Regions from separate parts of the Homo sapiens genome. Here region 1 is linked to region 2. The links come from fine-mapping of genetic effects on gene expression. Tissue or cell type: blood mononuclear cells. Region 2 holds a variant in brackets; the other region holds the start of a gene. All regions are shown on one strand. Distances are from middle to middle.

Region 1 (8,173 bases), 340 kb before region 2:
GCCGCCGCCACAGCACCAGGAGCCTGGCTTGCTGTGCGGGGAGCGGCGGGCCAGGGCCTGACCTCAAAGACGCAGGGGCGGGTTCCCTGCAGTCCTGAGAGGTTTCCGCTCCCGGAACCTCCAGGTAATTCAATTCACTCATCCGGCGCTGCCTCCACCGTCCAAGCTGGGGGAAGGGGCGGGCAGGGGCAGCGGGCTGCTTTCCCGGGGGGAAGGACATTGCCTTCGCCAGTCACCAGGAAAACCGTAACTGTACACCCGGAATCCCATTGCCAACAACTTCATGTAAACTCCAGTCCCAAGGACACAAGAGAGACCCAGGCCTCAGGCCCCATGGGCACTCTCGGCGTCAGGGCTCTCGCCAGACAGACTGGGGCAGTCTACAAATCTCGGGGCCCACCGCAACAAGTGGACAGGAAGGAGCAAATTAAGGGAAAACCCTACGAAACACACCTCCAACGCAACCAACCAATCCAAGAAAAAACACGTTTCAGGGCTCCATTGGCCCACCCTCGTGGGCGGCCCTGCCGCCCTGTTCTGGCTCAGCTCAAGCACCCTCCACCCTACCCCAGCCTGCTCAAAGGGGCCCTGTGTACTGGAGCAGAACGCTTCCTCTCCAAGGCTCTATGGCTCTCGCTTTCTAGGTTCCTCACCCTCTCTCTTTCTCTTCTTCCCCCTTTACCTCGCGCTCTTTCTGTCACCTTTTCTCTCTCTCTCTCTCTCTCACCCTTCTGTCTTCACCCTCACCCTGCCTCTCTCTCTACTGCTGTCTCTCTCTTCCGCCGTTTCTATCTCTCCATCTCTCATTCTTTGCTCTCCTTCAAGCTGTCTCTGTATGTGTCTTTGTCTGTGTGTCTGTGTGTGTGTTTGCCCACGCGCGTGCACCCTTTGTGGGGGGGGGGGGTGCGGTGGTTTAGCTCGTGGTGGTCATTAGTTGTGCCTGGGTGGGCCTCACCCCCTGTCTCACGGGATCAGACTGCCGGCTTTGGTGCCAGCGCGGGGCAAACAGTGCCCCTCCGCCGGACCCCTTGTTGCCCACAGGCAGGGTCCTCCTCGGGAAAGGCAACGGTGGTGAAGGCTTTGTGAGAAAGAGGGCCCGCGGGGCTGGGTCGGCTTATCGCCCTTGGGCAGCCCTGGCGGCTCTGATTGGGTGGGGCAAGAGGGGGCCTTGCAGGAGGGGCAGCGAGGGATCCAAAACAATCCCTCAGCGCTAAGGCGGACGACCAGAGGGGATCCCAGGACCCAGGACCGTGGGCCCTGGGCCCTGACGCCTCGGAGCACACCCCGTCCTGAGCGGGCCCGATGTGGTTTCGGGAGCTCGGGAGCCGGGGGAAGGCCTGGAGCTTCAGCGGAAGGGAGGCTGCCTGGAGAGCCCAAAGCCTGTTCTGGCCCAGCCCAAGCACCCTCCACCTACCCAGGCCTGCTCAAAGGGGCCCTATCTACCAGAGCAGAGCGCTCCCTCTCCAAAGCTCTATTGCTCTCGCTCTCTAGGTCTCTCACCCTCTCTTTCTCTTCTTCCCCTCCACCTCGCGCTTTTTTTGTCGCCTTTTCTCTCTCTCTCTCTCTTTCTCTCTCTCCTCCCTCACCCTGTCTCTCTCTCTATGGCTTGGAGAGCGCTCTCTCTCCAGGGCTCTATCGCTTTCGCTCTCTAGTTCCCTCACCCTCTCTCTTTCTCTTTTTCCCCCTCCACCTTGCGCTCTTTCTGTCGCCTTCTCTCTCTCTGTCTTTCTCTCTTCCCTCACTATGTTTCTCTATCGCTGTCTCTCTCTCCCTCCGTTTCTATCTCTCCATCCCTCTTGCTCTTGCTCTCCTTCAAGCTGTGTGTGTGTGTGTGTGTGTGTGTGGCCGCAAGCTTGCGCCCCTGTGTGAATGGGTGGTTTTGCTCATGGTGGTCGTGAGTTGTGTCTGGGTGTGCCTCAGCCCCTCTCTCCCAGGATCAGGCTGCCGGCTTTGGTGCCAGCGCGGGGCAAAGCAGAACCCACCCGGCCCCCTTGTTGCCCACGGGCTGGGTCCTCGTCGGGACAGGGGACAGGGTTGAAGGCGTTTTGAGAAAGAGGGCCCGCAGGACTGGGTCGGCTGATCGCCCTTGGCCAGCCCTAGAGGCTCTGGGTGGGTGGGGCAAGAGGGGACCTTGCAGAGGGATCCAAAACAATCCCTCACTGCTAAGACAGAAGACCGGCGGGGATACCAGGACCGTGGGCCCTGGGCCCTGACGTCTCGGAGCACACCCGGTCCTGAGCGGGCCCGATGTAGTGGAAGCTCGGGAGCTCGGGAGCTGGGGAAAGGCCTGGAGCTTCGGCGGAAGGGAGGCCACCTCGAGAGCCCGAAGCCTGTGCAGGAGACAGAGGCCTCTGGCGCCCACGCCCGGCAGCAGGGCGGCGCTGTGGCTGTCCCACGCTTGGCCTGGCCACCAGCTACTGCGGGAGGCTCTGGGAGGCCAGCGGAAGGCGCAGCGCGCGGTGGACGGTGCTCGGGCGTAGAGGGGGAGAGCGGCCGGTAGAGGGGGAGAGCAGACCAGCCCGGCCGCCGGCGAGCAGCTCAGGGGTACTTGATCCGAGCCCCGTGGACCCGGGGTTGCCGGGATGCCTGGAGTCGGGCGCGCAAGACTGAGCGGAGCTCTTAGGGCTGCCAGGCGTCTATGGCCATACCACCCTGAACGCGTCCAATCTCGTCTGATCTCTCGAGGCTAAGTAGGGTCAGGCCTGGTTAGTACTTAACTGGGAGACCGCCTGGGAATAACGGGTGCTGTAGGCTTTTTGGTTTCCCGGTCCCTCCCACTTTCCTCCTTTTATCGCGATGCCTCCCAACCGCACCCTGACTCTGCTCCTCCTTTTCCGCCCGCCTGCGCCCTCGCGGTACCCTGGGACCTCCTCGTGGGGCGTCCGCCACTGCAGCACCGCCAGTTAGCAGCTTCCCAGCTCTTCCGCCTGGCAGCCACCCCATCAGTAGCCCAGCTCGCTGCCCGGGGCGGGGCGGGGAGGGCCGGGCCGGGGCCAACCTCGAAGGCTCAGGGGCGGGTTCCCTGCCGTCCAGGGTGTCTTCCCTCTCCCGGGACGCCCAGGGAATTTAATTCACTCATCCAGCGCCGCTGGCACTGTCCAAGCCGGGGGAAGGGGCGGGCAGGGGAAGCGGGCCCCACAAGACACCAGCCAAGACCTCCGCTCCAGAACGCATGGGCTACTTTCCCCAGGGGAAGGACATTGCCTTCTCCAGCCACCAGGAAAACCGTCCCTGTGCACTCGGAATCCCATTGCCACCAACTTCGTATAAACTCCATTCCGGAGGACACGAGACAGACCCAGGCCTCTGCCCCGTGGGCATGCTCGGTGCCACAGCTCTCGCTAGAGGGACGGTTGCACTCTACAAATCTCGGGGCCCACCGCACCAAGAGGACAGGGAGGAGCCAACAAAGGAAAAGTCCTATGAAACGCACCACCAAAGCAACCAATCCAACAAAAAATACGTCTCAGGGCTCTGTTGGGTCACTCCGTTAGCCCTTCCACCCTGTTCTGGCCCAGCCCAAGCACCCTCCACCCTACCCTGTCCTGCTCAAAGGGGCCCTGTCTACCGGAGCAGAACACTCCCTCTCCAAGGCTCTATGGCTCTGTAAGTCCCTCATCCTCTCTCTTCTTCTTCCCCCTCCACCTCGTGCTCTTTCTGTAGCCTTCTCTCTCTCTCTCTCTCTCTCAATCCTGACTCACTCTGCCTCTCTATCACTGTCTTTCTCTCCCTCCGTTTCTATGTCTCCATCCCTCTCTCTTGCTCTCCTTCAAGCTGCCTGTGTCTGTGTCTTTGTCTGTGTGTCTGTGTGTGGGTGTATGTTTGCAGGAGGGGCAGCGAGGTGTGTCTGGGTGCGTCTCAGCCCCTCTCTCCCGGGATCCAGGGTGTGTGTGTTGGGGGGAAGCTGTGGAAAGGGTGTTGAAGGAAAGTGACAATCAGCTTCCTGAAGGGCACTGACAGGCCATTATTCCTGTGGCTTGGCAAATTTTCTGTTTGAACTTATTTCTTGTTAAGGGTCCAAGTGTACTGACTATGGAGATAAGAAAAGAATAGCTCTAAGTAGCTGAAGCTCTGTGAGGTACGGAAGATTTTTCTGGCCCAGAGAGACTTGAGTATGGGATTTGAGACACATCTCCACACCCTTTCCCAGGGGCAATTGTTTAAAGGTATGTTGTTCCTAACTAGCTGTCTCATCTGGAATTTGTGATACAAAGAACAATGTATAGCCAGTCAGTGACTTCTGGATTTTAATGTAAATTTTTGATGAAAATTTTAGGAACTGCCTCTTTTCTTAAAACCCACTTGTAATGGTTACTAGTTGGAATGTATAATCAGGGCAACTTTAGTCTATGCTCTCAGGTAGGTATCCTAAACATATGCTTTTGAATATACTTTTGAAAATAGATTCTGACTTTTTTATTATGATGGGTTGACAGGGGACTGGCCTGGGACACCTGCCTGGGTGTAAATACCCCAACCATGCGCTGCCCTGCCCAGCAGAAGAGGCGGGTGGACAGCAGGCCCCCTTTGGTCAGAAACACATGCATTGCATAGCTGTTCTGGACCTGGGTCCTGCTTGCAAGGACAGTTCCACAGGCGCACCGGAATGCGCCTCCCCTTTCCACCCGCCAGCATTCCCAAGCACGCCTCGGCTTCTGACTGTTCTGTGCTTTGGGAGGAAAACTCATCTTCAGGTTTTTCTCCAACAGAAGATGATGATGACGTTGTTTAGACACTCAGGAACAGAGATTGCAGATTGGCTTAAGAGTGCGCCCTTTATTAAAGATGGTATGCATGGAAAGACATGGAACAATTTTGGAAGGATACAAAAAAAATTGCCCATTTTGTTAATAGTCTCATTCAACCCCTTTGCTGACCTCATCTCCTGTCACTCATAACCAAAGGAGGCGGGTCCTGGAGCCCTGTCCAATCAGGGACATTGACGTGGGAACTGTCCAATCAGGAGCGCAGCTTGAGAGGCGGAGGGGGTTTCCGGGATCTGGCGGGGCCTTTGTCTTGTGCTCCAGCTGGAGCTTTGGTCCCGTATTCTCGGCTATTTATCCCCAGCTGCGGGAGGCCCTGGTGACTCTGCTGCTGCAGTGTCTGGTTTCCCTGTGACCTGCAGGTACTGGGAGTTACATAGCTAAGATGCCAGGACACCCCGAAAGCCGGAAAACGGTGAGAGTTCCCGGGAGGGTGTTCCAAGATGGCGGTCCGGCCTCCCGGCGTCAGCACTAGAGTCCGCGGCCCGGAGTCCCGGCTGGCACCTGTGGGATCTGTCACCTCTGGGTAGGGGCGGGGCCAGGCCGCCGCGGGATTCTCCTCCCATCACTGCGCCGCGGCTTCCGCCCCGGCCTCTCTGGGCGGCTATGAAGCCGCAGCCCCGCGGGTCCCCCAGACTGTGTGCTTTGTCCAGAGGGGAGGGTCATCGGGGAGAAGCCAAATCGGTGTGCGAAACATGCGTGGGAAGAGCTGTTCCATGGGGCTTATCTTAGCTGTGCAGTCCATCCTTTTTCCTGTGAAAAATGGAGTCACTTTTAAAGCTTTGAAGAGTTTGAGGAAAGGGAGTTTCATGAATGGGAGAGCGCCCAGCTATGGTGTGTGGCTTGTGGGTTTATGGAGGAGGTGCTTGAAGGAAAAACTTTTTTGTAAGGTGCATGAGGAAGCAAGCCAAATTTAATAATTGACGACAGTTACAGTCACCTTATTTGGACTGTCCAGGTGGAAATTTCCTGGTTATTTAATTACTGATTAATTGGAGTTTTGTGATTGGTTGAACTTGGATTTTGTTTCTACTTAAGGCAGTCATTAACAAGAAATGCATTTGAGCTATTAATATTCTTTTTCATGTAGAAACGCAAGACACTAGAGCCACCTCAGTCTAATTGCCTGCTAATTATTTTAACACTGCACAAGAGACTGCTTTTCCCCTGCATTTTCCAAATAACATGGAAAGCAGGGTCTTAAATCCACTCCTCTGTTCTCCCAGCCTGACTCTGGCCTGCAATAAAATACTAAATTTTCAGTTTCTTTCCAAAATTCATAAAAACCACCATCACCTCTTCAGTTCACAACACTGTCAGCTATTTGTCTTTTATTGCGTACTCCAGGCACAATATTTTAATTAATCATTTTTTCACAGAACATTGGAGGGCACTCTTTGTTGTTGCTGTTGTTGTTTTGTTTGTTTTTGTTTTTTCTTTAAGAAGGAGTCTCGCTCTGTAGCCCAGGCTGTAGTGCAGTGGCGCGATCTTGGCTCACTGCAACCTCTGCCTCCCGGGTTCAAGCGATTCTCCTGCCTCAGCCTCCTGAGTAGCTGGGATTACAGACCCGCGCCACCACCCCCGGCTAATTTTTGTATTTTTAGTATTTTGTATTTTAGTTTCACCATGTTGGTCAGGCTGGTCTCCAACTCCTGACCTCGTGATCCCCCGCCTTGGCCTCCCAAAGTGCTGGGATTACAGGCGTGAGCCACCACGCCTGGCCTGTTGTTTTTTCCCTACCCGGCTTTTTTTTTTTTTTTTTTTTTTTTTTGGTTGAGTTGGAGTCTCGCTCTGTTGCCAGGCTGGAGTGCAGTGGCGTGATCTCGGCTCACTGCAGCCTCCGCCTCCTGGGTTCAAGCGATTCTCCTGCCTCAGCATCCCAAGTAGCTGGGACTACAGGCGTGCGCCACTACACCTGGCTAATTTTTGTATTTATAGTAGAGACGGGGTTTCACCATGTTGGCCAGGATTGTCTTGATCTCTTGACCTCGTGATCTACCCGCCTCTCCCTCCCAAAGCGTTGGGATTACAGGGGCGAGCCACCACGCCTGACTTGTTGTTTTTAAGAGGATCTTGCTCTGTCATCCAGGCTGCTGGAATGCAGTGACATTGTCATAGCTCACTGAAGCCTCCAACTCCTGGACTCAAGTGATTTTTCTGCCTCAGCCTCCTGAGTGGCTAGGCTTAAATGTGTGTGCTGCCATGCCCAGCTAATTCTTTTTATTTTATTTTTTTGTAGAGATTGGGTTTCGCTAGTTACCCATGTTTGTGGAACTCTTTAAAGATTTGTTATCTGTTTGTGAAGGCAGAGAATAACCTCTTGGCACTCTATTGTAAAGAAATATTTGTGCCACTCTGCTTTTTATCTTTCCTAGGCACAGACGCCTTGTACAAAATCTTTGAAAACTTTGGAAACTTTACAGCTGGTTGTATCCTCAGCCACTCTTTTTTATTTTTATTTATTTTTTGAGACGGAGTCTCGCTCTGTCGCCCAGGCTGGAGCGCAGTGGCCTGATCTTGGCTCACTGCAAGCTCCGCCTCCCGTGTTCACGCCATTCTGCCTCAGCCTCCCGAGTAGCTGGGACTGCAGGAGCCCGCCACCATGCCCGGCTAGCTAATTTTTTTGTATTTTTAGTAGAGACGGGGTTTCACCGTGTTGGCCAGGATGGTCTTGATCTCCTGACCTCGTGATCCGCCCACCTCAGCCTCCCAAAGTGCTGGGATTACAGGCGTGAGCCACCGCGCCCGGCTCCTCAGCCACTCTTATCCTAGTCCTGAATTTCAGAATTGTCTGGGAATGGCCCAAGATGCCCACAGTGGCTATGTCTCTTGGAGTATCTAGTGAATTTTGGTTCCTGGGTTTTTTCCTCCCAGAGGACAGCCTATGGCATGGAGATGGAGCCTCTCAGTGAAGCAGCTGGATGTCCTGGGGCTGAGAGAAGTCTTCTGGTACACCCTTCACCTAAAAAGCTAACCCCTTAGACATTCTCCCCCAACCCCCAATTTCATTGCCTGGAGACACATCAGTGGTGTTGGGAAAAGACAGAAATAATTCCTGCCCTCTGGATTCTCAGACTTGTGAAGGGAGAAAAACTAGTCCAAAGGACAAGCAATAACTACTCCAGTGAGCTGGTGCGAGAACATGCAAAGCAAAACATCCCTGGGGCACACCGTGAGGCACAGTGCAGTGTCTCCAGACAGAATGGTCAGTGAGCACTTCAGTGAGCAGAATGAGGGGTGGGAGAATGTCCCAAATTATAGGATAGCCTGACTTGACGCTTGAGTCGGATGTGTCTGTGTTCCAGGTAGTACTGCTTCTCCCTGAGTTTGTCACCTTAAAAAGATTTGTTCACTTATTTCATCATCAGTTTTTTATTAAGTATATATTACACTTTATCAGTAGAGCTTGA
Region 2 (8,173 bases):
TGGGCCAGCCCTCCCACACCCCCGTACCTGCCAGGCTTCGCAACAGCCCACAGGGACACACAGAGCCCCTGCCCAGTATCTCAGCTCCTGTCCCCAGGCATCCCAGTGCATGGAGGCTTCAAGAGGCAGAAGCCCTGTGTTTGGGAGCAGGCCTGCTGGGGACCACTAAGGGTCAGGGTCCCTCATAAGACTTTGGGGGCAGCCTCGGAGGCCCAGGCCACTCAAACATGGGAGCCAGGCTGGTGGACAGGGCCACAGCCCCACCCAGAGTCCCCCAGCACTGGGCTTGGGCCCCCGCTTCCTCCAGGGGAGACCACGTGGGTGACTGAGTCCCACTTGTCCCCTCCAGCTCCTCCCCTGCCCCATGGGTCCTCCCTCACCCCTCACAGCCTCAGTGTCCTTATCCGGGAGATGAGCTGCCAGCCCCTCACATACAGGCTGCAAACCATCTGCCACACTGCGGGAAATCTCTATTTCCTGGGTTCTGCAGTGTGGGGATGAGAGCAGGGAGACAGGACAAAGAGGAGGGGCCCTGAGACTGGCTCTCAGCCCTTGGTGCAGGCCACAGCTGGATTGGGGTATGGGGCTCAGGCCCAGTACTCTGTATCCAGCTGACACCCACAGGACATTCTTGTAGCCTCCCCAGCAATGGGGAGCTCCCACCTCCAGGGACAGCCCATGGCTCTGGGGTCACCATCCCACAAGTCAGCTCTGCCCAAGATGGTGGCCACCGGCTCCTGGCTGGTGATGGGCCTGAGGTGGAAACAGGGCTGTCTCCTCCCTCCAGGCTGAATGGCTCTGGACCTGGCTGTTTCCAGGGATAGAGCCCCGTTGCCTGGCTCAGCCAGCCTCATGGTTGTCTAGAGAATGCATGGATGAATGAACGAATGATTGACCAAACAAATGAATGAATAAATTAATGATTAACTGAACAAATGAGTGAATAAATGAACTAGTGATTAATCAAACAAATGAGTGAATGAACTAATGATTTACTCAACAAATTAATGAATGAATAAACTAATGATTGGACAAATGAACAAAGAAATGAATGGATAAATGCACAAACAAGTGACTGAACTGATTGGATGAATGAACAAAGGAATCAATGAGTGAACAAATGATTGAACAAAGGAATGAATGAATGAATGAATGAATGAACTAGTGATTAATCAAACAAATGCATGAATGAACTAATGATTTACTGGACAAATTAATAAATGAATGAACATATGATTGAACAAAGGAACAAATGAATTGATAAATGAACTAAGGAGAAAATGAGTGAATGGCTGAATGAATGAACAAACGAATGGCACCCGGCCAGTGAGGAGTGAATGCATTTGTCCCTTCAGCAGATATCTGACCACCAGGGTCAGCGGTGCTAACAGGCCAGGGCCCAGCTCAAGCCCCCGTTTCCTTTTCTGAGGAGTATCCCCAGGGTCTCATCCTCCCAGTGATTCAAGGCCCCTGCCTGTGGCCCAGTCCCCCAGCCAGCACTAGGAGGGTCCCACCTGCCTCCTTCAGCCATAGCCCCCATGTACACCCATGGGTCTCCTCCCTCACCTCTCGACTCTGAGGTGGGTGGCAGGAGGTAAGAGAGCTGACCACCACCGGCCCAGGGATCTCACACATTGTAAAAAAAAAAAAAAAAAAAAAAGGTGCCTCAGTTTCCCCACCCCATTGCCCTCCTTTGGAATTTCTATGAAGCATACGTGGGGTGGTGCACACTTGGCACACACGGACGGACACACACACAGTCACACAGCCACACACAGACCAGGAAGTCACACACAGAACCTTGAAACCTCACATGAGACCACTGAGAATCCCATGGCAGAGGACGCCCTGCCTGTGGGCAGCCCACGCACTGACAGCTTCCTGGGGCCCACAGTGAACAAGGCCCAGGCCCCTAGGCAGACACACGCAACGAGAGGATGGACAGGTGGACAGAGGCAGAGGAAGGAGTGGATCCCTGGACGGCTGCCTGGCGAGTCAGGCAGGTGGTGTGGGTGGGGTGGGGGTCATAGTGGGAGGTGGGTGGATGAATCCTGGGAAGTTGATGGGACTGGTTTCTACCATGGGGGACACCACAAAGCTCCAAGCTTGGCTCGGGAGGCTGGGCACAGAAGCCCATCCTTGTCCCAGCTCTGCAGACCCCACTGTCCTTGCCAGCCCCACCCTCTGCACCTCCCAGTCCCTTCAGATATTTCAGTCCCCAGGTAAGTGCTTCTGTCTCCTGACACAGGTGCTCCTGCACACACACGTTCTCATGCAGCACACTCAAGCGCAGGCTTAGGCACACAGGCCACCTCTCACAGCTAACATAGGTCAAGTGACAGTGGGCCAGGGGGTGCAGGTGGGAGAGCCGGAGAGGGGGGTCTCAGAGAACCACAGGGGAGTGGCCAGAGCAGGGGGAGGGACCAGGATGAGAGGAAGGGATGGGGTAGCTCCAACAGGCGTATGACAGCAGGGTCACAGGCTGTACCCACCCTGCCTGGCCGCTGACACAGGGGGCCAGACAGGGGGCACAGGGCAGAAGTGCAGGGCACTGGGCCAGGCTGAGGACCTTCTGCTGCCCTCGGGAGAGCTACCCCCCGCCAGCCCCTGGGTGACAGGCCCTCCCCTAGATGCCACTGGTTCACCCCTGCCCTCCCCAAAGTCACGTCCTAGGCACCCCTGCCCTCTGTCCCCTCTTCTTCCCTTGCAAAGTGGCAGGTGCAGGTGCTCACGCCAGGCTCGGCAGCCCCCAGTCTGCTTTGCGGCTCTCTCTTTCAGTCTGTCTCTCTGTTTCTGTCTCTCTGTCTTACCTCTCTGCCACTCTCTGTCTCCCTCTGTCTCTGTCTCTCTGCTTCCCCCCTCTGTCTCTATCTTCCCCTCTGTCTCTCAATCTCTCTCTCTCTGTCTCCCTCCATCTTTCTCCGTCTCTCTCCTTTCCTCTCCCTATCTCTTCCTCTCCCTGTCTCTGTCTGTCTCCCGGCATGTCCCTCCCGCTAGTGTCTATGTTCAGCTGTTTTCCTCTGGCTGTGTGAGGGCAGTGGTGGGTGCAGGGGCGTCCCATGCTGCTCTGCTGTTGGAAGTTCCTTCATCCAGGGCGGAGAATGTGCTTGGGCCAGGGGTAGGAGGCGGGGCGCAGGCGGCCTGCAGTCCCACAGGAACTCGTGCAAGGAAAACTCTCTGAAGCTGCAGGGCCCACGCACCCACCTTGGCTGTGGGACGGAGAGAAGCCCCTCCGGGGTACAACTCCGCCAGACGGCCCAGCCTGAACCTCTTTTCCACGCACTTCCCCAACTTCCACAGCCTCCCCACAGCCCTAGGTCACTGGCCTATGCCCCACCATGCTGGGACCAGACCCCGGAACGCCTCCCACCTGAAAATGGCCTTGAAACACATGACTCCGTCACAGTCACAACAGACTGCAGGCAGGGCACCAGCCTAGTGCCACAGCCCACCAACAGCGTGCGGCCAGACCAGAGCACAGGCCCACAGACCCACAGGAGCCATGCTCAGTGTCCCTCCCTCAGTGTCAGCCCACAGAGGCTGGTGGCCATGGAAGCAGGAGAGACAGGACAGTGAGATAGACACATAGGGACAGACAATATCAGTGTCCCGTCTCCACAGGGTCCCCATGTCCTTGAGGTGACCTGGGCCACATGTCCCCTCA[G/A]TGTTCTGTCTTTCTACAGTGTCCCCATGTCCACGGGGAGGGGGGGGGGAAGTGGGCCACACATCCCCTCCACATCCCATCCCTCCACAGCATTCCTATGTCTACAGGGGGACCTGGGCCATGCGTCCCCTCCACGTCCCATCCCTCCACGACATTCCCGTGTCCATGGCGGGACCTGGGCCACATGTCCTCTCCACATCCCGTCCTTCCACAGCATTCCCATGTCCACAGGGGGACCTGGGCCACACGTCTCCTCCACATCCCGTCCCTCCATGGCATTCCCGTGTCCATGGGGGGACCTGGGCCACATGTCCCCTCCACGTCCTGTCTCTCCACAGCACTCCCATATCAATGCAGGGACCTGGGCCACGTGTCCCTTCCAGGTCCTGTCCTGTCCGTGTCCTGTGCTCCTGCCTTTGGGGCTGTAACTTTCAATTTCTTGGCCCAGTTCCAGGCTTGTCAACAGCCTCTGGCAGTCAGGAATTGGACATTCTCAGAAGAGTATCAGGCATGGTGCCCATTGGGTCTGTGCAGTTATGTTGTGCCAACTGTTTGCTTTTCCCGCCATGTAGGCTCATTCTTGTGTAAAAGATTCCCAATTGCACAAGAACCTGGCTGGTCTTTAGGGCTGGGTAACTGGGAGTAGGAGGGCCCCAGCCTTTTCTTTTGGGCCTTTGAATTGATAGAAGCTCAGGGTCCATCGGGAGGGATCTCCTAGTGACCTTGGAGCCCACAGACCCCAGCAGAGACCCCCCCGCCCCACCAGCCCTCCTGGTTACCTCCCCGGCCCAAAAGGTCCATCGGGGACTGGCCCTGGGAGTCAAGGATGCTGCGATACCTCCCCCTGCAGAGCTCCCCTTCCTAGGGAGCCTGGACCAGACCCAGCCTCTCCCAAGCCCTTGGCCAGCCCTCCAGCCCTGATCCAGTGGAGCTTGACGTCATGAATTCAGCAGCATTTCCATGAGTACCCCTCCTCCCCTGTCCCAGCGACCGTGCTAGACCAAGCAGTCTGTGGGGCTGTCTGGCCTCCTCCTTGGCTGTACCCAGGGTACATCAGGCCTCCTGTCCACACCAAGCCCCTGCTGGGGACAGGCACTGGGACCTTCCAGGCAGCCCACCGGGCCTCAAAAAGCCCCTCTCCCATGGGCATCATCCTTGAAGGCACCTGGCCCAGGATAGACACGTTGTCTCTGAGAGTGGCACCTAGGCCTGGGCAGGCAATCCCGGGAAGCTGCCTGGAGGAGGAGGTGGCACACTTGAGTCATTTGTGATGGGAGTTCCACCTGCACGTGAGAAGGCCAGGAGGGTCCAGGCAGAGTTCCTGGGCCTGGACAGCATGTGGGCCATAGGCAAGGCAGGGACACTGGCCTCAGGGGTCGGAACATTGTCAGGGGAACAGATGGAGGGGCAGACTTGGGGCAGGTGACCGCCCGAGGAAACTGAAGTCCAGCCCTAGGTCCAGGTAGTAGGGAGAAGGTGGGTAGGGACAAGACAATGGGGACAAGCCTCACGGTGGAGAAGCTCGGGAGGAGGGTGGGGGTGCCCATGACAGAGCCCCAGGATGGGCTCCTGCGAGGGCACAGCTCCACCCCCCGCCCCCCAGGCTGAGCCCACTTCCCATCTCCAGCATCCCCAGGGATGGGAGAGGAGACTCCAGGTGGGAAGAAACCCCTGATCTGAGGCTGCTCCTAGGGGAAGAGGGATGGCTTACCCTGACCCCTGATGGCCAGGCCAGGCCAGGCAGGTCTCTGTCTCTCTATGTCTGTGTGTCTGTCTCTACCTCTGCCTCTCTTTGTTTCATTCTCTCTCTGTCTGTCTCTGTCTTTCTGACTTTGTGTCTGTCTCTGTCTTACTCACTGTCTGTGAGTGTGTGTGTGTGTGTGTGTGTGTGTGTGTGTGTCTCTGTGTGTGTTGCTGGGTCTCCCTGGTGGCCTGGGGAGGTCCTGCGGGTGGTGTGGCCTGGTTGAGCCTAGTCAGCCGTGGGGAGGGGCCTCTCCTGCTGGCCCCGGCCTCCTGGGCCTTTGTCTCCCTACCCGTGCATTGAGGAAAAGAGTCATCGGTCTGGGATAACAACCTCCTGCCGTCCAGAGGCTGGGGGCCCAGAGCCACATGTACAGGCCAGGACAGTGGGCAGACGGCTCCATCCTGGAACTCTCAAGACAGCAGGGGGTGGGGCTGACCAGGGAGGGAGGCGGCTTCACATTGCCTGGAACACCCAACCTGAAAGAGCAACTGCTCCCCAAGCCGAGACCAGGGTACCAGGGGCCAGGCAGGGCTCGGGAACCCAGGACACGCCAGCCTGGCCTGTCCTGTGGCGCCGCCAGACCCCCATGCCTGGGCTGCCTCAGTGCTCCTGCCATCCTCTCCTCCAGTCCCACTGTGGGCACCAGTGGGGCGGGGATGCCTGATCGTGAGCAAGGAGGGGCTCCCCAAACCCTAGGCTGAGGCTGGGGGCTCTAAGGAGACCCGAGACAGTGTGGGGCAGTGGGGGGACTGGGCAACTGGCATATCCCCACATCCTACAGCTCCAAGGAAGACCTGTCCTTCCCGCAGCCCTTGAAATTCGAGCCTAAGAGAATCTAGAGCCAGGGCCTGGCCTCTGCTCCCAGCCAGGCACTAGGCACTGCAAACCCCAGGGTGGGACCCTGACCACCTCACAGACCTACCCCACACACAGCTGGCTCTGGAGCCCCACCTGGGCCGTTCACAGACTAGCCAGGCCCCGGATGGTGGCTGGAGACGGGCGCCCCTCCTCCCACACAGCCAGACCCCTCAGCCAAGAAGGTGCAGCCCCACGGGCACCACAGGGCACCCCTTGCCCAAAGGCCTCCAGGTGGAAAGGAAGCCAACACCTCATGGCAGGAGAGGAGGCCACGCCTGCCTGGGGTGTGGGGGATGCAGCCCCACCCTGGGGTCTTGGAAACACGGCCCTACCCTCGGGTCTGGGGGAAGTGGCACCACCCTGGGGTCTTAGGGATGTGGCCCCACCCTGGGGTCTGAGGGACACAGCCTCACTCTGGGGTCTGGGGGACATGGCCCTACCCTGTGGTCCGGGGGATGTGACCCTACCCTAGGGTCTGGGAAATGTGGCCCTACCCTGGGGTCTGGGGGACATGGCACTGCCCTGGGGTCTTAGGGATGTGGCCCCCCTGGGGTCTGGGGGACACAGCTTCACCCTCGGGTCTGGGGGACATGGCTCAGGGGATGTGGCCCCACTCTGAGGTCTGGGGGACACAGCCCTGCCTTGGGGTCTGGGGGATGTGGCCCCGCCCGGAGGCCTGGGGTACACAGCCTTACCCTGGGATCTGGGGGACATGGCCCCGCCCTGGGGTCTGGGGGACGTGACCCTACCCTGGGGTCTGGGGGATGTGGGCCCGCTCAGGGGCCTGGGGTACACAGCCTCACCCTGGGGTCTGAAGGATGTAGCCCTACCTTGGTTCTGGAGACACAGCTGTGATCACAGGGCTGGCAGCTCCCAGAGACCTAGTTGAACCCAACCTTGGCTCTGCCCTGGTCCTCTCTGGGCTGTGACCTGGGCATGTCAGGTGGAGGGGTGGCCAGAAGCGCACAGCGGGCCAGGCGGGCCATTCCCCATTCCTGCTAGAGCATGCCCAGCCGAGCTCCAGTCTAGACCCAGCTGTTCATGAACCCTCTGCCAAGGCCATGTAGCCCTGTGACATCCCGGCTCCCAGCTGCAGTCTTTCCCAGCCTGTCATGGGGACAAGGCAGTTGGGCCCTCCCTGACCAGGCAGGCCTCGTGGGACCCCCAGCCCTGCCCTGGGTCTGCCAAGGGGACTTTGTGCTCTGGGTGCAGACGGGGCGGGGGTGTGCATCCCCACCATGCCACTGGGGCTTGGCACTCGGCCAGTCACCCTTGGCTGGGGGCAGCGGGAGCCAGGGCAGCAGGAGGTTAGCCGGGTGTCAACGAGGCGATCTCCTGGGGTCAGTGGGCACCAGCTGAGGGCAACATCTCCATGGGATCCCGGGTGGCGGGCATGTTCCCTGGAAGGTTCGCTGTGGCTCCTGTCTGTGCCTGAGCTCCCAAGAGCATCTGGCCCTCGCATTCCATCAGGGGAATAAGAGGGCAGCTCTCACACGGCCCCAGCCCTGGACTGGGGAGGGTCATTGTCCCCTAAGCCTGGAGGTGCTGTTCATGGTGGGTGGCTCTGCAGATGCCCCTGTCCGGCCGGGTGGGCAGCCACCCTTCCTGCTGTGAGCCTCAGGCACAGTGCCCACAGCCAGCCCTTCTGTGGGGACCGCAGCCAGAGGCCCAGGAGTGGGGCACAGTCCCTGGTAGCTCCTGGACCACTCAACATGGGGTGAGAGGCCCACAAAGCCCCGTCATCTTCACACACAAGGCTGCAGGAACTAGTCTAGGGGCCTGGGCACCCCTCAGGGTCACTCCAAAAGCGCCCTGGCTCCAGTCTCTGTGTACCTGGGAACCTCAGTGCTCCTCCTGGGCTCTGCTCCCTCCTAGGCTCGAAACTGCCAGGGCACCCAGGCCCCTCC

Evidence for each region. PIP is the estimated chance that this variant, and not a neighbour inherited with it, causes the effect.
Region 1: ZNF678 starts here. The variant in region 2 is fine-mapped to the expression of ZNF678 in blood mononuclear cells (TOPMed, PIP 0.93).

Annotation. Positions count from the first base shown.
Region 1 is chr1:227,558,547-227,566,719 of GRCh38, forward strand. It overlaps ZNF678 (zinc finger protein 678), which reads left to right and starts at 5,010. Exons shown (of 4, transcript NM_001367909.1): 1 at 5,010-5,178. It also overlaps the pseudogene RNA5SP77. RefSeq lists enhancers at 311-620, 651-710, 4,966-5,245.
Region 2 is chr1:227,896,801-227,904,973 of GRCh38, forward strand. No RefSeq gene overlaps it. Among named protein-coding and RNA genes, the nearest start is that of MIR5008, 41 kb to the right of the region's middle. RefSeq lists enhancers at 2,751-3,251, 4,485-5,485. The variant G/A (reference allele first, on the strand shown) is at 3,665.